4 separate regions of the Homo sapiens genome follow, and regions 1, 3 and 4 are each linked to region 2. The links come from fine-mapping of genetic effects on gene expression. A gene starts in region 2. Each other region holds a variant in brackets. All regions are shown on one strand. Distances are from middle to middle.

What was found. PIP is the estimated chance that this variant, and not a neighbour inherited with it, causes the effect.
Region 1: its variant is the best candidate, but not a certain one, in a credible set for the expression of NHSL1-AS1 in monocytes (Schmiedel 2018, PIP 0.82).
Region 3: its variant is the best candidate, but not a certain one, in a credible set for the expression of NHSL1-AS1 in blood mononuclear cells (TOPMed, PIP 0.74).
Region 4: its variant is the best candidate, but not a certain one, in a credible set for the expression of NHSL1-AS1 in whole blood (TOPMed, PIP 0.75).

What each region holds. Positions count from the first base shown.
Region 1 is chr6:138,602,559-138,608,555 of GRCh38, reverse strand. It overlaps a transcript of NHSL1 not described here. Among named protein-coding and RNA genes, the nearest start is that of NHSL1-AS1, 86 kb to the left of the region's middle. The variant C/T (reference allele first, on the strand shown) is at 3,204.
Region 2 is chr6:138,688,972-138,694,968 of GRCh38, reverse strand. It overlaps NHSL1-AS1 (NHSL1 antisense RNA 1), which reads right to left and starts at 3,301. Exons shown (of 4, transcript NR_033896.1): 1 at 3,001-3,301; 2 at 422-576. LOC124900217 (collagen alpha-1(III) chain) reads right to left here and starts at 2,243. Exons shown (of 2, transcript XM_047419637.1): 1 at 1-2,243. The coding sequence starts at 2,206. The coding sequence ends at 1,277. It also overlaps a transcript of NHSL1 not described here. RefSeq lists silencers at 1,455-1,594, 1,635-1,694, 2,175-2,524, 2,535-2,584 and an enhancer at 2,707-3,906.
Region 3 is chr6:138,596,061-138,602,057 of GRCh38, reverse strand. It overlaps a transcript of NHSL1 not described here. Among named protein-coding and RNA genes, the nearest start is that of NHSL1-AS1, 93 kb to the left of the region's middle. The variant A/G (reference allele first, on the strand shown) is at 2,491.
Region 4 is chr6:138,711,342-138,717,338 of GRCh38, reverse strand. No RefSeq gene overlaps it. Among named protein-coding and RNA genes, the nearest start is that of NHSL1-AS1, 23 kb to the right of the region's middle. The variant T/C (reference allele first, on the strand shown) is at 2,686.

The DNA.
Region 1 (5,997 bases), 86 kb after region 2:
TTGTGCTACAGATCCTACTGTATTATAATGATGCCTATTTTATAGAGAAAGCAGGAATTATTGAGTTCACATTGAGTTGAAACTCATTTTAAAATTTTCAACTCCATTTTTTATCTGTTTCAACTGACTTGGACATAGAGAACTTGAAAATGACCTAATTTCTTCCAAGGCCAACTGTTAAAATTCTGCTTCATGTATGAATTACAGCTTTTGTGTTTGGATTATTGGTGCTAAGATTTAGAATCTTGAGGCTATCTCGTTGGAAACTGACTTCCTTTATCTCAGAAATTACTCAGTATGAGAAACATGTCATTCAAAGTAATTTTCATGATTTTCTGACAGGCAGACATGTTAGTGCCTTTCAAACAGACTAAAGCCTTCATTTAGTAAGATTTATCCTCTCGCGAGCTAAAATATGTCCTTTGAGAAAGTGTTTTCTTGGTCTAGAATTCTTTTGTTGGGGCTCACTGTTGCAGAAGAGTGTTCCCTGCTGCGCAGTTCCGCTTGGTCCTGCAGCTAGACAGTGAGCGAAGCTGACAGGGTTGAAGGTTAGCATCCTAGGACTTGGGGGAGCTCAGCCCTTCTGTTGGGGTGCATGGGAATGCCACAGTGTCTCGTAGGAGGACCTCTAAGGTCCAAAAGAGGCATCCTGCTCCCTCCTTCTGTCACTTATCTTTGGAGTCTCAGTCATGAAACTTTTGATTCTGTTTCTTAGGAGGTATGAATTTGAAGACATTACAAAGCACCCATTTGGTCTCTTGAATATAATTCCTTGGAGTAGTTGTCCTTCTGAAACAGAAGCATTTAACTTCAAAGCCTCATGGGAAGGAAGGAAGCTGACAAGAAACCCCACTCCGATTATGACTCCTGGCGGTCCTTGCATGTATGAGGCATTGGCCACAGCTTTTGTTCTTGCTTTTGTTCCATGTACCACAACTTGTTTTTCTAGAATTCCCCAAGCTTTTGTATGCTGAAGAAAAAAATCAAACCATCACAATTTTAATCCTGATCATATTCCATCTCACTTCCAACTCAACTTCATAAAAACACGCACAGTTTTAAGGTGTGTTGTGCTAAATTGAAAATTACATTGCTATAATATTCTTTGTTTGCTTTTTTTGTTTATGAACCAGATGAAGTAGTTTGACCTCTCACTTGTTTCAAGGCTAATCTGGGTAAATACTTTTGTTTTTGTTTTTTTGGTTGGTTTTGTCCGATGATAGTATATTTAGAAATAATGTTCATAGCAATAAGGTCAGAGACTTGTAAGAGGGAGACTGACTGAATCATCTTTCTGTTGACAGCATTAACACCATAGCTTGTGTTCAGTGAATGGATGCATTTATTACTTGAGCACTTAAGAGTGTCAGGCGTGATGCTAATTTCCAGAGATCCAAAGTTGAGTGAATTGGAAAAGGGAAATAAAGAAGAGGAAATAATTCCCAAACAGTGTGGAGCATTACCTACAGATGCATAGGTTTTGATGGTAGCACCTGGGGGCACCTCCTCTTTGAGGATGTCCTATCTTAGCTGATTAAAGAAGTAGCATGGGGGCCGGGCGTGGAGGCTCACACTGGTAATCCCAGCACTTTCAGGAGGCTGAGGCAGGCGGATCATGAGGTCAGGAGATCGAGACCATCCTGGCTAACATGGTGAAACCCCGTCTCTACTAAAAATACAAAAAAATTAGCCAGGTGCGGTGGCGGGTACCTGTAGTCCCAGCTATTCGAGAGGCTGAGGCAGGAGAATGGCGTGAACCTGGGAGGCGGAGCTTGCAGTGAGCTGAGATTGCGCCACTGCACTCCAGCCTGGGCAACAGAGTGAGATTCTGTCTCAAAAAAAAAAAAAAAAAAGAAAGAAAGAAAGAAAAAGAAGTAGCCAGATGAAGGTGGGGTAGGGACACTGCCAGTCACAAAAAGCACGGAGGCAATAAATGGCATGATTTTGCTGGGGAATATGGGCACTGGGGACACAATGCTAGGTGGCTGGTGTCAAGAGACCTATGAAGTGGATCTGTGATAAGGGCCCTTGTTGTAGACGGCTTTGTAAAGCATACAAAAGAGATTTAATCCCAGCCTATTTAATTGATCAAGAATGACAAGGGCAATATGCCGAAGCTGCTGCTGATTCTGTAAGCTTACTAAATCAATAGACATTTTAAAAGTCCATCATCATGGATGCCGTGGGGCTTAGTATCATTTTGTTATTTTGAAATGTTGTGATGATAGTTGATGAAATTAATTAATCATACTCTATCGCAGATGGAAATGAGACAGTGGTAAGTTCTTTCTCTGTGGGGAATGAAGTATTTTGGTTGCAAGAAGAGGAGGAAGGTGCCAGGTCTTTCCTCTGCAGCCTCTTCAGGCCAGAGGAGCCTGTGTGGGTTGTGATTTGTGGGTGGCTTGTCATTCTGTGGGTGGCAGGCACAGCAGGGGGCTGTGAGAATGCAGGAACAACTTGTATACACAAAGCACTTTGCAGTTTTGTGAAGCCCCTTCATCCATGTTATTGATTCTGAGCTCACAAAATCCATATTTAAAAAGCAGAACAGCAAACCTCTCCAGTTATTCCTATAGTTGAAGTTCAGAGAAGTTAAGTGAGCTGTTCAAGGATATGCAATTAGAAATCAAAGGATATTACATAAACCCCAAATTTATGACTCTCGTACTCACGCACTTTCCACATTACCACACTTCTGCCTTGCTTGATAGCTATTCAAGAGACCTGGCCATTTTCCTCTCAAAACTACAAGTAGTTCCCTTCAGCAGAGACACTATTGAGTGAACAGATTCTTAACAGTGTAGAAACTTACCTTAATCAGATGAATATGGTGTTGAGTCTGTTCTCTGAAAGCAAAATTATTTTAATCATATGATGCTTCTCTTTGATGAATTGTTGCCTTTATATTTGTGCCTGATGTCTTAGAAATAGCTTTCAAATCAAAGTCGTGGTGGGTAGACACAATATGAGTGAAGCTGGAGCTAGAACAGTTTTAAGATAGCTGACACCTTTGTCTTTTTATGCTTTGAGCTGATGAAAATCTGTTCCATTTTTGACTGCCACAGTATTTTAATTCTGGTAAACTTTTTTTTGTGGGGGGTGAGAATGTGAGAGTTTATATTTTTATTTGCTTATATGAAAAGGTAATTATACAAAAAAGAAATTAGCCAGGCCTGTTGGCGCACGCCTGTTGTCCTGGCCAC[C/T]CGGGAGGCTGAGGTGGGAGGATTGCTTGAGCCCAGGAGGTTGAGGCTGTCGTGAGCTGTGATAATACCACTGCACTCCAGCCTAGGCAACAGAGCAAAACCCTGTCTCAAAAACAAACAAAAAAGGTAGTTAGATGAGTACATGCGAAAAATGGTGAAATCCAAGTCAGGTCCGTTGTCTAGTTAATTGTGCTTCATGCCAGTCAGTTTTCTGCTTTTGATAATGCAGTGCAGGTTATGTAAGATGTTACTGTTGGGAGAAGCTGAGTGAGGAGTGTACCAATCTCTGTACTATTTTGGCAATTTCTTGTGAGTCTATAATTATTTCAGAAGAAAAGGTAAAAGAAAAGTAATTAGGATATGTCAGTCAAGTAAGTCAGATATTTTCCTTAAATTTGAAACAATTTGTCATGACTAAATTGTAGTGCAGGCTGGGCGTGGTGGCTCTTGCTGTAATCCTAGCACTTTGGAGTCTGAGGCGGGCGGATCACTTGAGGTCAGGAGTTGGAGACTAGCCTGGCCAACATGGTGAAACCCCGTCTCTACTAAAAATACAAAAATTAGCCAGGCTTGGTGGCACATGCCTGTAGTTCCAGCTACTCAGGTGGCCGAGGCATAAGAATCGCTTGAACCCAGGAGGCAGAGGTTGCAGTGAGCCAAGATCACGCCACTGCACTCCAGCCTGGGCGACAGTGTGAGACTGTCTCAAAAAAAATTATTTTAAATAAATAAATCATAGTGCAAATAACATACTCATCATTCATTCATTCATTCACCAGATAATTGTTGAGTTCTTTACTTTCTGCCAGGCATTATTTTAGTTGCAGAATCAGAGAGCTGTGCCTTATTGTAAGAGGTTAACCAGAAAGAGCCTTCCCTCCTTGCTTCTTAGTTGTAGAGCAGGGCTTCTTAACCCTAAGCTGTGGATTTTAGGGATAGCATTTGTGTTTTCTGCAGAAAGTATCCTTAGTGTTCGTTAGATTTTTGAAGTTTAAGGACTGCTGCCTTAGATGATTACTTCTCATACATGGCTTTTCATGAATACAGGGAAGCCTCTGGCATTCTGAATGCATTAACCTTCTGATTAATTGTCTTTGGGAAACTTGAGCTTTGCAAGGTTCCTATCAAACTTCTTTATTTTTCTTTTTAGTTGACTGATGGGAAAGGTGTTGGATACTTAGAAACAGTTTGACTTCTGAAACAAAAATATTTAGAGCTACTTAAGTTGATCCATGTTAGCTCTGGGTGGTCAACTCACTTAGCAAAACTTAACGCTGATGATGAAGCTTCTAAAATGTTTTCGTAGGAGCTCTTGTGTAAGTGTCATACTGAACACTGTATTGGTACTGAACACATTTTTATTGCCCCATCCATTCCAAGGGGCCAATGTGCCTGACACATCTCTTTTATTCAGAGTCTGTGTGGTGTTTAAAATTAGTTCCAGGTAAGACTTAAAATTCATGATATGTTTTACACATTCTCTCTTTTATATGTGGTTGGTACAGGTATGTGATTTTTCTCTTAAAGAAAAATGAAAACCAATCTTAAACTTCCATCAAATTACATTGCCCTGCAACTATACATATTTTCCTTGGTAGCATTTAGTGTACCTGACATGCTTCTGTTTTAAAGGGATGAGATGCTCTTAGAATAAGAGACTTAAAGTACGAGAAGGGGAGTTTGGACTAAAATAAGTCTGACTATATCTACAATAATTTATAGTGGTAATTTTCAAGTTTGTCTTCTGTCATTAGACTTTGAGCCCCTTGAGGGCAAGGCTGAGCTCATTTATGTCTGTTTATTCCTCGGCTCCTAGTATGGGATCTAGCAGCCTGTAGGTGTTCAGGAATTGTCTGTTAAAAGACCTTCAAAACACTATTTACAGGTACCACCAAACCTCATAGTGCTCACCCAGGAATGCATGGGAAACCTTTACACTAATCAAAGATCCCTGTTGGCTAGAGCACTGTGTGTGGTGGTGTTTTTAAAATGCTCAGAATCCAGGCTGACACAGTTGGCTCATCCCTGTGATCCCAGCACTTTGGGAGACTGAGATGGGTGGATCGCTTGACCTCAGGAGTTCAAGACCAGCCTGGGCAACATGACAAACCTCATCTCTACAAAAAATAAAAAAAATGTAAAATTTAAAAAAACCCCTCAGAATCCTCAAATGGTATAAATAATCCCCTCTCAATATACTCTTTGGCTTTAAAAGCTTAAAACTGATAGTTATATTTTGGCCATTGCTTAAGTAGCTAATTTTGGGAGTGGAAGGTATCTTCTTTCCATAAAAGAAAACCAGCAAACAACAATGTGAGCTGAATTAATTTTTGTTTATAATGTAATTTCTCTGTTTGTTTGGAGGGCTTTTTCTGTGGGTGCTTCATAGATTTAGCCATGATGATTTCCATTTTAGATTTATGAACTGTCCGGGAAGGAATTCTGTTTTAATTTGTCACAACACCACAGTCCCTTGAAGGCATGGATTCTTAATGCATCTGATGAGGAGAATGTAATTTTAAACACTTACACCTACCAATGATGAAAAGAACAAAAGGCATGCTATATTCAGTTCCAAGTGGATTCTCTTTATCCATGGGAAATGATAAATGCCCCATATTGTTGGGAAAAAAAATTAGATGAAACAAACATTTGTAAATCTAACAAAATTTGCATTTCCATGGAAACTGAAATTAAAAATACAATAACCGGCTGGGCATGGTGGCTCATGCCTGTAGTCCCAGCACTTTGGGAAGTTGAGATGGGCAGGATCGTCAGAGGTCAGGAGTTCGAG
Region 2 (5,997 bases):
TTATACACTTTAAATAGGCAAATTATATTGTATGTAATTTTTTTTTTTTTTTGAGACAGAGTCTGGCTCTGTTGCCCAGGCTGGAGTGCAACGGCATGATCTCGGCTCACTGCAACCTCTGCCTCCCGGGTTCAAGCGATTCTCCTGCCTCAGCCTCCAGAGTAGCTGGGATTACAGGCCCCCACCACCACGCCCGGCCAATTGTTGTATTTTTAGTAGAGACGGGGTTTCACCATGTTGGCCAGGCTGGTCTCAAGCTCCTGACCTCAGGCGATCCGCCCTCCTCGGCCTCCCAAAGTGCTGGGATTACAGGCGTGAGCCACGGCGCCCGGCCATATTGTATATAATTTAAAAATGTTATGCATGGTCCACTACACGAGAGTCTCATGATGGCAGGGACAGAGCCAGCTTTGCACATTACCTTATCTCTAGCCAGTGCCCAACACACAGGCACTCAACTAGTATTTCTTGAGTAAGCAGCATGCTTTTATACCGTTCCTGATGTTTATCCAGTGCTTCATAAATTGCAAAGCATGTTTTTTCACAGCAGCCGTTCCTTTGAGCCTCATAACAACCCTGAAGGTGGTCAGAGTAGGTGATACGAAATAGTTACTGGCCCACATTGTAAAAAATGAGGCGCTGTACAACAGGATAAAGACCAAAACACCACCACCACCACCACCAACACCATAACCCGTATCTGTCTAATAAGTTTTATTTGGAGGAGCTCTTTCCCAGGCCCATTTTTCTCCCACTGCTCCTGTCCCCCAGAGAGGGAACGCGCTTCTCATTACAATCAGCGCTGCTCTGGGAGACCGACTCCCAAAATGCCGTAAAACAGAGGAGCAACCAGGGTCAACTGGAAAGCAGAAACCAAAGAACCCAGATTCCTTTTCTGAGCAAACACAGCGATGGGCCAGTGGGATTTTAGCTTGGGGATATTGGACCCAGTCTTCTCAAAAACTTCCTACCAGAAGGTTTGTGTTAGCGGGTGTCCCATGACCACGATCTCAATAGCATGTGGCTTACATATCTTCCAGGCTCGAATTCAGGGTTCTAGGTTCTAGTCCTCCACCCCTAACTAACATGCTTGGTGGAAGAAACTCAGATTAGTCACATTTCAGCTTGGACCTTTCCAGCTGTAGTAGCAGGCAGCCACAGGGGGAGTCACCTTGCTGAAAAAAACTCACTGGACGCCCCCTGAAAAGAGGTCTTGAGTTGTTCCGAGTCGGACGCTGACTCCTAGTCGGCTACAGAACCCTTGGCCACCGGACATTTAAAGACGTTCTATTTGAGGTCCACCCGGGCGGCCCAGAAGTGTTGGCCACCTTCCAGAAGGGAAGTAGGAGAGAGCAGGGGGACCCCGAGGGGCCCGGGGCGTTCCCCGCGGGGCGGGGCGCTCCTGACTGCGGAGCGCCGTGGGCAGGGGCGCAGGTGAGCAGAGCGAGCGGAGCTGGCCGCGGCCGTCCTGGCGCCTCCGCCCTCCCGGCGCCCGCACTGCGCTGCACCCCGGCCCGGGGGGCGGGCGAGGGCTCTGCCCCACCGCCCGGGGGCTGCCAAGGGGAGTTGGGGCGGCGACGTGGGCGTCCCGGGACTGTGCGCCCGCACCCGCCCCGACAGGGTGCGCTGAGGCGCCGGGGCCGCCACTGGCTGCGGGCGCTGGGCGCGGCAGCCGCGGGAGCCGCAGGTGGTTCCCGGGCCGGCCCTTTTCTCCTCCCCCTTTCCTTTCTTTCGCCTCCCCTCCCTCTCGCCCGGTGTCGGCGGCACTTCCCTCGCTTCCTCCTCCCTCTCCAATCCGGAGGGAGGGAAGGAGCAGCCGGCGCTTTCCTGCCCGCCTGCAAACTTCAGCGGGACTCGCGGCTCCCCTCGCCGCCGCGGCCGCCGCCGCCCAGAGCTGCCCCTGGAACTTCCTCTCGCCGCGCGGCCCGCGAAGCCCTGCGGGTGGAGGAACGCCGCCGGGCGCCAGGCAGCCACGGCTCGGACCCCATTCCTGCCCCGCGCCGCCCGGGTGCCCGCTCGCCCGCGCGCCCGTCCGTCCGTCCGTCCTTCCTGCCCGCCCGGCCTCTCCCCTGCGGGCAGGGGCCGCCAGGCTTCCCTCGGCGCCCCGCCGCTGCCCGGGACTTCCTTTGTGTTGGATGCAGGCTGGCGCCCCGCGCCGACGGGAGGCAGACTGAGGGATCCCGCGCCGCCGGCCCGCCCCCGCCATGCCCTTCCACCAGAGGACCCTGGAGCCCGCGCGGCTGCGCCGGCCCGAGGCGGCGGGGGCCGGGGCTGCGGGCGCGCCACTCTTCCGCTCGCTGGAGCAGGTCAGCTCGCATGCCCTGGGCTGCCTGCTGGCGCAGCTGGCCGACCTGTCGCGCTGCGCCGGGGACATCTTCGGCGAGCTCGAGGGCCAGGCGGCCGCGCTGGGCCACCGCACCGCCGCGCTGCACCGCCGCCTCGACGCCCTGCAAGCCGCCGCTGCGCGCCTGGACCACCGCCGAGTGAAAATCCGTGAGTGGCCGGCGGGCCGGGGGAGGGGAACCGGCGGGGGAGGCACCCGGAGAGCTGCTCCCGCCCGCCCCCTGGCGGCCCTGGGTCGGCGCGGGGGCCGCGGAGCCCCGCGATGTCGGGGTCTCCAGTGGGGACTGCCGGACCCCAGCGGGAGGCTGGGCAGGTGGCAGGGGCGCAGAGCGCTCTGTGACTTTCGGACTCCTGGAGGGTCTTGGCTACCTCGAGAGAGTGGGCGCGGAGGGTGGGAATTGGACAGTCCCCTTGTCTGCTCCTTCTGTCTGTCTGTGTCTGTCTGTTTGGGAGACCCCGGGGCGCTGTAGACAGAGGAGAGCCAAGTTCGTGGGAAAACTGTCACAGGCAGGTAGCCTGTTGGAAAAGCCAGGGGAGAATATAAATTTGGGCATATAGTAGTTACAGTTTTGGAGACTTCAGGACGATCCGTTTGTAAAACCCTGGGGATCTCGGCGAGCGTTGGGGCTGCTTGCCACCTCTCTTCCCGCCGCCTACCTGTGTTCTTACCGACAAGCAAAACTATGCAGACTTTAAGGGTTTTCCCATTTGGCGCAGAATTTTCTTTCTTCTCCCAGACTGACCCACCAGCTCTTTGTGATTCAGAAGACGTTGACCTTGAGTTCAGGCTCTGAATCCCATTCATCTTTGTCCGGCTTCCTCCAACCCTGAAAGTCAAGTCTATGTCCTGATATAGTGATCTCTCCGGTGATCCATTTCATTTCAGCAGCTTAACTGGCTCCGGTGAATGAAGCAACTGGAATTTCCTGCTGGCCCAAAGCAGAGAAACTTTCAGTGTGATGTCTCTGTGGTTTCTCCCTTTTAAGTACGTGAACTTGGTCATAATCCTAAGTGTAAAGAATAAATTGGAGATGGTTGATGGATTGCTGGGTGGGAGGGGAGATGTTGATGTAACACACGCCTAGATTTCAGCAGCTCTGGATGAAATAGTTTTTTCTCCTAGAATCACTTCATATGCAATCTCGAATAGCTCGTTTTCCAGCTAGCTAGAAAAACTTAGCTATATTTTAACTACCTTACAGCCTAAGAGTTCAAAATTTTCAATTATTTAATTTCAGTGAGATTGCTTGCTATAATACATCTTTCTCCAAGTTGTATAATTAATTCGTGGCAGTTTTACATTTTTGCGTTCATCTCTTTGATTGTGCCGTCAACACATTCATATGAATTGTGGACAGTTCCCAACCTGGGAGAGCGTCCCCCTCCAAGAAAAAAAAATCAGTGGGGAGGAATCAAAGTGATCTCATAAGGTTGTTGACATAATCAGAATATATCTACTTAATGTGAGTGATGACTTCATGCATATGGTAGGATACACTGTCCTAGTAGGATGTCATGGTCTATGCGGCAATCACGAGTTGCTTCTATGCGTTTTCTGTCTAGGGTGTAGGTACGTGGGAGAACCAGAATTTTACCCTTGACAAAGAATGTGATGAGGGAGATCTGATTGATAGGTGAACTGATCTATTGTGGGAATTAAAAAACAAGAGGAAACTCCCTGAAGGTCAAGAACTCCTTCCTTTACTAGTTTGGTTTTACATTTAAATGTATCACTTTTCTCTGTTCTTTAGTACATATGCCCCAATAGGCTACTGTCCATAGCCAGAAATCCCCCAAATTCTCCATATTAACTAAGGTTGTTCTAATTACAGTAACTGAAATAACTCTTTTCAAAACTTTTCACAAGTTTGTTTGAATCTTAAGTGGTTGTGATTTCATACCTGTCTTCCAGGCTGGAGTGCTGTGGTGCAATCTCAGCTCACTGCACCCTCCGCCTCCTGGGTTCAAGCAATCCTCCTGCCTCAGCCTCTAGAGTACCTGGGATTACAGGCGCCCGCCACCACGCCCGGCTAATTTTTGTATTTTTAGTAGAGACAGGGTTTCGCCATGTTTGTCAGGCTGGTCTTTAACTCCCAACCTCAGGCGATCCACCTGCCTCGACCTCCCAAAGTGCTGGGATTACAGGTGTGAGCTACCACACGTGGCCCCATTTTTTTTTTTTTAATAATCATGCAAGAAGGCTTTTTATTGAATATAATTATGCCTGAGTATAAATGTACATGTAGAGAAGAAAGCTGACTATCAAGACATTAATTTTTGTGGTTTCTTTCACCTTCACACACTTTGCTTTTTTATGTGCTTAAAAGCAGTGAAATGCCTATGCATTACCATCTGTTAGGATTCTTTTAAAACAATGCCTCAAACCTTGTTTCTGTGTAAAAACTACAGTTTGAAGTTGTTCTGCCATTTTAGGCAGGTCTTCAGAATATCATACTCCATTAGTATGGATGGCTAGACTTTTAGACTTGGAATTGACCGTAAAGGCCATCCATTTCGTGAATTCTTACCCAGAGAGGAAATCCAGTCCAACAGCATTGCAGTTAATTCACCCCAGGTTAGGCTGTGGGTAATGACACATCCGGGCCTGAAGCCCAAACCTTCTGATTGTCTCGCCTGTCGTCCCACTGCCTGTGTTCCTTCCCTTTAGAAGAGTGTGGAGCCAGGCACAGTGGCTCATGCCTGTAATCCCAGCACTTTGGGAGACCAAGGTGGGCGGATCATTTGAGGCTAGGAGTTCAAGATCAGCCTGGCCAACATGGCGAAACCCCGTCTCTACCAAAAATACAAAAATTAGCGAGACTGTCTCAAAAAAAAAAAAGGTGTGGAAATGGGGAGCAAAGTTTAGATATGTTCCTTAAACAGTCCTAAGGATAACTGTGACCGTTAATTCCACCCTTCTTGTCAGATAAACCATTTAATGAGTCTCCCCAGGAGCAATTAACAGAATCCAGCAGTTTACCAAAAGCCTCTAGCAGTTGGGGACAGCATATTTCAGTGACCAATAATAGCTTTCTACCATAAGAAAGGATGTGAGAATGTCAGTGGAACAATTTAAAAAAATGTATAAACACTCTTTGCAATACAGAGACAGTATTTTAGTCCTGTGGGCTGGCCCTGCTGGCCTCAATGATCCTGAGAGGTATTTCATCAAGTTTGCCATTCCTCAAAATCTCATGGGTAGAAAGTTATCCAAAATAATTTTTTGTCATGCCTTGGGGAGAATGCATGTTATTATTCTGTTCATTGAAGACTCCTACTTTCTTTCCCTGACACCCCCAGGTTGAGGGGCTGTTCCCATGGCATTGGTTCACCTCGATCACCACATTTACCAAGGGGACTTCTGCACCCCTCTGCCAGACAGCAGGACCTTTGAGGTCCAGGATGGCCGAGTCTTTGTTTTTCTAGAGCTTAGAACAATGCCTGGATGTGATAGCTCAATAGATGTTTGAATTGAATTAATACTTAGTGACTTAGTGCTTACTGTCAGGAAGAATAACTATAAAAACCTTAGGGAGGAAGGAGGATGGATCTTTTGAGGCAGGTGGATCAGTTGAGGCCAGGAGCTCAAGACTAGCCTGGCCAATATGTTGAAACCCCGTCCCTACTAAAAATACAGTACTAAATACAATACTA
Region 3 (5,997 bases), 93 kb after region 2:
TAAAAATCCCAGCTTAATTAGTAGTTACCATTTTTCTGTATGCTGCTATCTCATTGTAGTCCTGTGAAATAATGATAAACTTATCGGCTTTATAGGTTTGCAGTCTGATAGATCTTTCAATGAAAAAGTTAAAGTGTGTACATTTTCTTATTCTTTAGCCTTAGTTTTTTGTTTTTGTTATTAAATAAATTCTTGAGTTTTTGTGATACTGTTGCTGGATTTAAGAAAAACTTTTTTTTTCTTTTTTGAGATGGAGTCTCGCTCTGTCGCCAGGCTGGAATCCAGTGGCGTGATCTCGGTTCACTGCAACCTCCACCTCCCGGGTTCAAGCGATTCTTCTGCCTCAGCCTCCCGAGTAGCTGGGACTACATGTGCGTGCCACTACACCCAGCCAACTTTTGCTTTTTTAGTAGAGACAGGGTTTCACCATGTTGGCCAGGATGGTCTTGATCTCTTGACCTTGTGATCCGCCCGCCTCGGCCTCCGAGAGTGCTGGGATTGCAGGCATGAGCCACCGTGCCCGGGCAAGAAAAACTCTTATAATCAGTATTAATCATTTTAGATTCACCTAAGAGTAAATTTTTTAAAATAGTACTCCTCTTGTATGAGTTTTCTGCATAACAGGTGCAATTGAGCAATAGCCACACAAGTGTCTAGGGATGGTGCTGAATGTGTAACAAAAGGTTAAAGGGTTTTCTAACAGATTGCCAGCAGTGTTTTACATTTCCTGAATGATCTAAGTGTTGGTTTAGCTTGGGACTGGAGAACATAACAGATTTAAAAAATAACAATGAATATGGTTGCTATGTCAGAATTAAAGAGTTATTTAAATAAAGTCAGGCCAGGGAGTATAATCAAAAGATTCCCAACAATCCTGGTGAGTTTTACTTTAGAAGAAAGTTCTGGGATAAGTGATTCAGATTTATAGTGGAACCAGATTTTATGTTCATTTCTTTCCAGTTAATCCAGATTCTATTTTATACATTTAGTACCTTAAAAAGTAAATGAAGGGACATACATTTGAATGGAATCCTTTGTTTTCTATTGAATTTAATGCTTTCATAATCATTATGAGAAAATACTTTCAAATGATTTACACATGATTTAGAAATGCAGGCAGCCCTTTCCAAGTGGTTATTGTATTCTGACACACAGTGATTTTTGTAGATATATCATGTTACAGAATGAAGTGGCCATTTTTGTGGGATGAATTTTCTAAAGAACATGTTGAAATATTGGAGGTTAGGGTTATTTTAAAACATGAGTTTCTTCTCTCACAAATTAAAGTGTTTGATCCCTATAATTGCCAGACTATAAGCTCTAATAGGGATAGTAAGATCTAAGTGTTGGTTTAGCAACGACATTAAGAAAATTTTAAGTATAGCTCTGAATTTAAAAGGTATTAATATTATTTTTCATTTAAATTGATAGTAATTTCATGAAAAACAAATGGCTTAAACCCAGGGAAGCAAGGATTATAATTGATTTTTTTGAGCAATGTTCTCTTTTGGTTACAAAGTAAAAGGTAAAATAAAAGTTTAAAAGCATTTGGAAAGAATGTTCTTTGGTTTTTTCACTCAGTAACCTAAAGTTTAATGACCCTTTACAGTGCTGATAAACACTTAAATTTTTGCAGTAGGCATTGCTAGTTCAAATTGAAGGAAGGTTGCCAGGCTCATGCCTATAGTCCCAACTACTTAGGAGGCTAAGGCAGGAGGATCCCTTGAGGTCAGGAGTTCAAGGCTGCCATGAGCCATCATTGTGCTACTGCACTCCAGCCTGGGCAATAGAGTGAGAACTGGTCTCGAAAAGAAAAGAAAAAGAAAATAAAAGAACAGAAAAGAAAGCACTGAGTGGACCTTAAAATACCTCTGTGTTGCTTCATTTTAATTAATTAATTAATATTTTTTTTTTGAGATGGAGTCTTGCTCTGTTGCCCAGGCTGGCGTGCAGTGGTGCAATCTTGGTTCACTGCAACCTCTGCCTCCTGGATTCAAGCAATTCTTCTGCCTCAGCCTCCCTAGTAGCTGGAGCTACAGATGCATGCCAACATGCCCAGCTAGTTTTTGTATTTTTTTAGTAGAGATGGGGTTTCACCATGTTGGCCAGGCTGGTCTCGAACTCCTGACCTCAGGTGATCCACCCGCCTCGGCCTCTCAAAGTGCTGGGATTACAGTCATGTCATGAGCCACCATGCCCGGCCTGCTTCATTTTAAAGGTACTTCATTCTTCCTTGTATCCTGAAATCTCTCAGCACCAACAGGGAAGGCATTTAGGTGACATTGGAAAGTTACTTTCTGATGCCTTCTATAGGTACTAAGCTGACCCTGCCTGAGATCTTGCCTTGAGATCTGATTGGACTTAACTGAGCATTTGTGATTTGATCATCTTAAGGTATCTCAAGCACTGAATGAGAAACTGGAAGTTTCTTGTGTATCTGGGTTATACACTTGGTCCATTCTAATTTCAATAGCACCATTATTTCTGCAT[A/G]TGTTATATAAGGAGAAAAAGACCTTAAAGAGTTCTAAATCTTTCTGTTTTTTTTTGAGACGGAGACTTGCTGTGTTCCCCAGGCTGGAGTGCAATGGTGCAGTCTCGGCTCACTGCAGCCTCAGTCTCCTGCATTCAGGTGATTCTCCTGCCTCAGCCTCCCAAGTAGCTGGAATTACAGGCACCTGCCACCACACCCAGCTAATTTCTGTACTTTTAGTAGAGATGGGCTTTCACCATATTGGCCAGGCTGGTCTCGAACTCTTGACCTCAGGTGATCCACCCACCTTGGCCTCCCAAAGTGCTGGGATTACAGGCATGAGCCACTGCGCCTGGCCTTACATTTTTTTATATTGTACTGGTTACCATAAAACACTAAATTATGTAGAATTTGTTTTGAAAAAAATATGTAATAGAATCCAAAACAATTAGGTAGCTCAGAATGTTTTCTTAGGTTATACTCTGTGCCTGGGTCAAGAGGTAACAGACAAATAGGATCCAAATTTTACAGCTAGATGACTTGGACACACAGAGAGTAGGTGACTTGCTGATGATTAAACAGGGAATCTGATGGATCTCCAGGCCCTAAGCTCTGACCTTGGACTCTTGCACTTTTTGCAGTCTAATGTTTAGAAACATATGGGTGAACCTGAATTAAAGAGAAATACATGTAAGTCCATTTACTTTAATTTCATTTTCATTATTGTACTTAAGAGTGTGAGGATGCAGTCGTCTTTGAATGAAGGCAGCATTCAGTATTAGTGGGATTGTTTAGCTTCACCCACCCTACCACAAAGAGATGAGGAAACGCTGGACGTTGTTTTAGTCTGGTCAGCAAATCCAAATCTATGAGCATTGTGGAGAAAGGGTCTATGTTCACATATATTTTTAGTAGTTCTTAGAAGAAAGAAAAATGCTGCTTTTTTTTTTTTTTTTTTTTCTTCCAGATGAAGTCTTGCTTTGTTGTCCAGGCTGCTAGAGTGCAGTGGCATGTTCATGGCTCACTGCAGCCTCAAACTTCTGGGCTCAAGCCATCTTCTGACCTCAGCCTCCAGAGTAGCTGGGGCTACAGGTGTGCACCACCACATCTGGCTATTTTTTTTTTTTTCCAAGATGGAGTCTTGCTCTGCCACCCAGGCTGGAGTGCAGTGGCGCAATCTTGACTCACTGCAACTGCCGCCTCCCAGGCTCAAGCGATTCTCCTGCCTTAGCCTTCCAAGTAGTTGGGACTACAGGTGACCACCACCATGCCCGGCCAATTTTTGTATTTTTGTAGAGACAGGGTTTCACCATGTTGGCCTGACGGGTCTTGAACTCTTGGCCTCAAGTGATCCATCTACCTCGGCCTCCCAAATTGTTGGGATTACAGGCGTGAGCCACCACGCCTGGCCTAATTTTTTAAAAAATTATTATTTGTAGAGATGGGGTATCTCTACAATTATTTGTAGAGATGTTGCCTGAGCTGGTCCTGAACTCCTGGCTCCTATGATCCTCCTGCCTCGGCCTCCGAGAGTGCTGGGATTATAAGCATGAGCCACTGTGCCCTGCCAAAAGCTGATTTTTAAGGTGGGGGACAGTTTCACCTGCACCGCCTTCTCTGCTGGAAATCATCATCAAGGTCACTGATGACATTATCATCGTCACTGGGGAAGTGCTGGCATAACCTGTAGGTCAGTGCTTCTCAGTCATAAGAAATATTTTTATTATCTTTTTTCTACCCTGAAATGAGTATCACATAGCCAATATAATACATCTATTCATGCATGCTTAAAAAGTCAATATAATGTCCTACCTGCAATGTAAGGAGAAATTAAAGAAGGCCATTTTTACCTTTTCATATTCATTGCTCACACAAAACTGTACTTACTGGAAGATGGAATGAAACCGTTGGATGCTTACATGTGTGTGGAATTACCATGATGAAAAGCTAGTGACTCAAACACTACAAGCGGTTAGGTGGTCAGTGATATGATTTTTCAGAAATGGTGAACAATTCCTGCCAAAATTCCAAAGTAAGCAAGGAGTCTACACTAGAATAACCAGAAACGAACAACATGTACCCGGGACCTGGAAGTGAGGCGTGTATGGTGATGTTTGATTTGAATTTTGGACTAAAGTTCCGTGATGATTAATAGCACAGGCAGCCAAATGAAAAACTTGTCAAATCAATAGTTACGTAGATTTTACTATTAAAAGGAAATAACAGTATCTGAGATGGAATTAAAATTTCCAGGCTCCTAAAATCATTTCCTGTAAATTCTTTGTTCTTTAGGCTATATGACACCAGATCAAAACTTCGGAAACTAACCAGCCATTTTTATGGATTGATGCTTCATATGCCAGCACTGAATTAGGCTTTTGTATTCTATTCGCTGTTTGCAGGTCTTAACTTTTTGTTTTTCTTTTTGAGACAGAATCTCACTCTGTCGCCCAGGCTGGAGTGCCGTGATGTGATCTTGGCTCACTGCAGCCTCTGCCTCCCAGGTTCAAGCGATTCTCCTGCCTCAGCCTCCTGAGTATCTGGGATTACAGACATCCGCCACCACACCTGGCTAATTTCTTATATTTTTTGGTAGAGACAGGGTTTTGCCACGTGGGCCAGGCTGATCTCAATCTCCTGGTAGGTCTTAACTTCTGATTGCAAGGCGGGAACCCTGAGCACTTCAAACTCTGCTTGAGAGAGTTTTTCTGTCACGCTTAACTCACGCAAGGTAGGAATGAATAATTTGCTGCTGCCGCTGCCTCTAGAGACTATTTTAAAGGATTATCTCATGGAAGCTTTCAGAACTTCCCCCCCACCCCCGCCAATTGAATGTGGGTGAGAAACGGACGTGAACTTAAAAAACTTACCAAGCTTGGTTCACCTCTCAGGAGCAGGTCTGCTTAAATTAGCTGCATTGAGCTCCTCGATGTCCTTTTGCGGCGCTGCTGATTCTTTCAAGAACCTTGGCTACCTTGCCAAATGTATCACTCCTTTATAATCTTAAGCGTTTTAACAAATGAAATACAGTTCAGTTTCTGCACTTGGTTTTAAATGTCATGATGTGTCTCAGCAATCCACTTAGTCCATCAAAATCACATTTTGACTTGTCCACATAATCCTTTTAGACTGTTTCTGGATTTATTAAGTGCTTTTTCATGCAGTTGATGAAAAAGCTTTCATTTTAAAAATAATTTCCACATGACGCTGGAGGCCTCCCATTGTAGTTTAACAATAGTTGAGATGTTGTATTGTTTATTCAAAACTGCCAAGTAGCGTCAGTGCTGGTGGATGGGAACCCTGGATGGAATGCTGGGAGAGCCCTGGGGAGGTAATTTAACCTCTTCGTTGTTCAGTCCTGATGTCCAGTGGGTTTCAGCAGCGTGTCTAGGTTTACTCCATTGCCAGGCAGAGGTAGATTCTGCCTCCTCTGCCCCTTTGCATTCCTTGGATCGACCATTGACTACTGGAAGGCATTCAGACCATTACCTTTCTATGCCTTTTCCTTTGCATAAGACCTGCAAAGG
Region 4 (5,997 bases), 22 kb before region 2:
CTCAGCTTCTTGAGTAGCTGGGACTACTGGTGTGTGTAGTTTTTTTTTTTTTTTGTAGAGATAGGGGTATTATGTTGTCCAGGCTGGTCTTGAACTCCTGGCCTCAAGCAATCCTCCTGCATTGGCCTCCGGAAGTGCTGGGATTACAGGCATGAGCCACCTAGCCCAGCTACGATAGGAATCTACAATGGATTGCATAACTAGTCTTTTTTTGATGGACAACTCAGTTGTTTGTAATTGTGTTATTATTACAATGAAGCTGTGGCAAATATCTTTACACATTTCTCTTGGTGCACAGGTTTATCTAGGGTAAATATCCAGCAGTTAATTTTTTTTGGATTGAAATATGTGTGCTTTAAAAATTTTAGGGAGGAGGAAGGGAGGGGGCTGAGGGCTGAGGGACTGCCTGTTGGGTGTTGTGCTCACTGCCTGGGTAATGGGATCATCCATACCCCAAACCTTAGCGTCATACAGCGTTTCCATGTGGCAGACCTGCACATGTACCCCCAAATCTAAAATAAAAGTTGAAATTATTTTTTAAAAATATAATACATACTCAGTAAAAAAATGAACCTGGCCGGGCGCAGTGGCTCATGCCTGTAATCCCAGCACTCTGGGAGGCCGAGGTGGGTGGATCACTTGAGGTCAGGAGTTTGAGACCAGCCTGGTCAACATGGCAAAACCCCGTCTCTACTGAAAAAACAAAAGTTAGCCGGGTGTGGGTGACACATGCCTGTAATCCAAGCTACTCAGGAGACTGAGGCAGGAGAATCACTTGAACCTGGGAGGTGGAGGTTACAGTGAGCTAAGATCATGCCACTGCACTCCAGCCTGGGTGATAGAGAGTCTGTCTCAAAAACAAACAAACAAGCAAACAAACAAACAAAACAAACTAAACTCATAGCCAAGTGTATGATCAAGTTAGCCACCAGTTCCTTGTGATCACACTAAATCTTTTGTTTCTCAACAGTTACTCTTATAGAAAAATCATTTTTATGTTCCATCTTTTGGATCCTCTCTCTCATACTTCCATTCCTCTAAATGAGGATGTATTTTTGGTGACAAGTAATAGAAACCTTACGTGAACCAGACAGAAAGGGTAATTCATGGGCTCATGTAATCAAACTGTGGGAAAGCCCCAGTCTAGCTACATCTAGCCCCAGTCTAGCAACATTTAGGCAATGCTGCCAGGACTCATTTTGCTTCTCAATTTCACTCTTTTACTGCAGGGCAACTTCTTTATTTTAAGAGTTCTTTGTATTCTAATACAAGTCCTTTATTAGATATGTGCTTTGCAAGTATTTTCTCCCAATCTATGGTCTGTCTTCTATTTCTCTTAACAGTATCCATCAAAGAGCATTTTTAAATTTTGATTAAGTCCAATATATTAGTTTTTAAAAAATGGATCATCATTTTGGTGTTGTATCTAAGAAATCACTGCCTAACCCATGGCCACAAAGATTTTCTCCTATGTTAGCATCTAGAAGTTTTTTAGCTTTAGGTTTTACATTTAGGTCAATGATCAATTTGGGGCTAATTTTTGTATATGGCACATGGCATGGATAAAAGGTTATTATTATTGCATATGGATGTTTTATTATTCCAGCACCATTTTTTGAAAAGATGATCCCTTCTCCACTGAATTGCCTTTGCACCTTTGTTGAAAATCAGTTTTCCATTTATGTGTGGGCATGTTTCTCCACTCTCTTTTCTGTTTCACTGATTTATTTGTCTACCTTTACTTCTATCTCACACTGTCTTGAACACTATATCTTTATAGGAAGCATTGAAATCAGGTAGAGTTAGCTCTCCAACTTTGTTTTGCTTTTTCAAAGTTGTTTTGGCCATTCAGGTCTTGATATGGTTTGGGTCTGTGTCCCCGCCCAAATCTCATGTTGAATTGTAATCCCTAGTGTTGGAGGAGGGGCCTGGTGGGAGGTAATTGGATCATGGGGGTGGACTTCCCCCTTGCTGTTCTCATGATAGTGAGTTCTCACGAGATCTGCTTGTTTAAAAGTATGTAGCATTTCCCCCTTCCCTCTTTCTTCACAAGCTCTGTCATGTGAAGATGTGCCTGCTTCCCCTTCACCTTCCACCATGATTGTAAGTTTCCTGAGGCCTCCCCAGCCGTGCTTCCCGTACAGCCTGCAGAATTGTGAGTCAATTAAACCTCTTTTCTTCATAAATTATCCAGTCTCAGGTAGTTCTTTATAGCGATAAGAGAATGAACTGATACAGAAAATTGGTACCGGGAAGTGGGGCATTGCTATAAAGATACCTGAAAATGTGGAAGCATCGTTGCAACTGGGTAATGGGCAGAGGTTGGAACAATTTGGAGAGCTCAGAAGAAGACAGGAAGATGAGGGGAAGTTTGGAACTTCCTAGAGACTTGTTAAATTGTTGTGAACAAATGCTGATAGTAATATAGACAGTGAAGTCCAGGCTGAGGTGGTCTCATACAGAGATGTAGAACTTACTGGGAGCTGCAGTAAAGGTTGCTCTTGCTATGCTTTAGCAAAGAGACTGGCAGCTCTAGGGATCTTTGGAACTTTGAACTTGAGAGAGATGACTTAGAGTATCTGGCAGAAGAAATTTCTAAGCAGCAAAGCATTCAAGATGTGGCCTGGTTGCTTCTAACAGTATATACTCATATGCATGAGCAAAGAGATGACCTGAAATGGAAAC[T/C]TAGATTTAAAAGAAAAATTGAAAGAACTTCAAAGAAAATAACTTTCTCAAAATTTAATGAAGCATCTGTGCACCAAATAAAATCCTGTCACAGACTGCCAGAGATTCTGTTTCAAACTTTGGGAAACATTGGCATGATGTTTCCCAGCTCTTGAGTCCAAGTTCTTGAGGCCAGCAGGCTACGTTTAAATCTAGGGTCTTTCCCTCAGGTACTAGCCGTTTGCTGCTATGCTTCCCCTCTGAATCTGTTTCCTTACCTGCAAAATAACAGTACTAATAAAATTGCCTGTTTGTAGATATAAAATGAGATGAGGCATAAAAAGCCCTTGGCATAATCCCCAGTAAATGGTAGGTGCCTTGAAAATGTCAGTCATTTTTAAGGCAGGAAATCAGTGTCATAACTCAAAAATATGGGCCCTTTCTGTTATGGTCAGCTTTCTACTCTCCATTCTTACCCTCAAGTTTGAGACACTTGGCCTTGACTTAATCTCTTCACTCTCAAGGTGTAAAAGCACTTCACCAAACCTTTTATTTCAACAATAGAATCAGGACCATGACTCATGTATAAGTGACTGTGCAAGTTGATCTGGGTGGGATTGTGAGCCAGATCATCCAGAGTCAGTCTTCGCTTGCCATAATTGTCATGGTATCATTACTAACAGATATTTAGGGGTGAGCACCCATTATGGGTAAAACTCCATGACAGCTTCTGGGAGCACTATTCTAGATGGTCATAGTGAGCTTTTGGCTGGATGTCTGCAACACACTCTAAGAGGCCAACTGGAAGCTGTGGACCAGGCAGACTAGAGCCACTTTGCAGTGGAGAGGCACAAACTACAAGGAATAAAATTATAGGTTGCTAGAATTGTAGTCTACATTTCCCTTTGGCTGCCTGTTTGTTTCTCGATATAATTTGAGGTGTTGACTATAGACCACAAAAACCTAGGTGGTTTTGGGTACCAAGCTGTCTTATGAATTACCTTTCTCTCTTTCTAACTTCCCGGTAGCTAAGATTAGCAAGCATGGTTGGGATTATAATTGCTGCATTTAAACTACAGAAAGACTGTTCTTTGATGAAAGATTCTCATATTTCATAAATGTTCTAGTTTGATAAAACTTTAATGTCCTTACCAACAGGTCATAATGGACATGTAACTTTTTATGTTCTTACTACATTGGTTATTTTTAAAGTATACTTTGTTCTGAAAGTATACTTGTTCTCAAATCTTTAGAGGCACAAATTTTTACAAGTCCGATCATATCTATTACCAGATCAGTTGTATATTTGAATTATAGCCAAGTTCCCCTAGTTTACAAGGCAATGTGAATTATGGATAAATTATTAATACCAGTTAAAAGATAATTATTGAAATTACAATGGGGCTTATTTGAATATTTAAAAATCCTGGCTGGGGCATGGTGGCTCATGCCTGTAATCTCAGCACTTTGGGAAGTCGAGGCGGGCAGATCACCTGAGGTCAGGAGTTCGAGACCAGCCTGACCAACATGGTGAAACACTGTCTCTACTAAAAATACAAAAATTAGCTGGGCATGGTGGCAGGTACCTGTAGTCATCACTACTCAGGAGGCTGAGACAGGAGAATTGCTTGAACCTGGGCGGCGGAGGTTGCAGTGAGCTGAGATTGTGCCACTGCATTCCAGCCTGGGCAACAGGGTGAGACTCCATCTCAAAAAAATAAAAATAAAAAATAAAAATCCTGGCTGGGCATAGTGGCTCACACCTATAATCCCAGCACTTTGGGAGGCTGAGGCAGGCAGACCCTTTGAGCTCAAGAGTTTTAGACCAGCCTGGGCAACATGGCAAAACCCTGTCTCTATTTAAAAATGCAAAAAATTAGCCAGACATGGTGGTGCGCACCTGTAGTCCCAGCTACTTGGGAGGCTGAAGTAGGAGAATTGCTTGATGAACCAAATAGATGCATATTTTTCTTCAGTTGTAAGCAATTAAAATGGTATTTTATAGATGAGAGCTGGCTTGCTGTAGTTACAATCTTACTTTGGACAAAATACACGCTGAATTGCTTTTCATTGAGATGAGGCATAAATCTAGGTTTTAGGTATCCTGAAACGTATGAAATTTTGGAGTCCCTCTTCAAGTAAAAAGAATACCAGGCTAAGTGTAGTGGCTCACGCTTGTAATCCCAGCACTTTGAGAGGCCGAGGCAGGCAGATCACTTGAGCTCAGGAGTTGGAGACCAGCCTAGGCAATATGGCAAAACTCCATCTCTACAAAAAATACAAAAATTAGCCAGATGTGGTGGCACAGGCCTGTAGTCCCAGCTACTTGATAGGCTGATGTGAGAGGATTGCTTGAGCCCAGGAAGTGGAGGCTGCAGTGAGCTGTGTTTGAGCCACTGCACTCCAGCCTGAGTGACATGGCAAGACCTTGTCACACATGCCAAAAAAAAAACACCAAAAAAACAAACAAAAAGAAAAGAAAAAAGTCAGGCATGGTGGTTCACACCTGTAATCCTAGCACACTGAGGTGGGAGAATTGCTTGAGGCCAAGAGTTCAAGACCCACCTGGCCAAAATAGTGAGACTCCGTCTCTAAAAAAAAAGAGAAAAGTAGGGGAAATTTTGAAGATGGCTGAATAGGAACAGCTCTGGTCTGCAGTTCCCAGCATGATTGATGCAGAAGACGGGTGATTTCTACATTTCCAACTGAGGTACATGGTTCATCTCATTGGGACTGGTTGGACAGTGGGTGCAGCCCATGGAGGGCAAGTTCAAGCAGGGCAGGGCCTTGCCTCACCCGGGAAGCACAAAGGGTCAGGGGATTTCCCTTTCCTAGTCAAGGGAAGCCATGACAGACTACCTGGAAAAATGGGGCACTCACGCCCAAATACTGTGCTTTTCCCAAGGTCTTCACAAATGGCAGACAAGGTGATTCTCTCCTGTGCCTGGCTTGGTGGGTCCCACACCCATGGAGCCTTGCTCACTGCTAGCGCAGCAGTCTGAGATCGATCTGCGAGGTGGCAGCCTGGCTGGGGGAGGGGTGTTGGCCATTGCTGAGGCTTGAGTAGGTAAACAAAGCAGCCAGGAAGCTTGAACTGGGTGCCCACCGCAGCTCAACAAGGCCTACTGCCTCTAGACTGCACCTCTGTGGGCAGGGCATAGCTAAACAAAAGGCAATAGACAACTTCTGCAGACTTAAACGTCCCTGTCTGACAGCTCTGAAGAGAGCAGTGGTTCTCTTTGCATGGCGTTTGAGCTCTGAGAATGGACAGACTGCCTCCTCAAGTGGGTCCCCAACCCCTGTGTAGCCTAACTGGGAGACATCTCCCAGTAG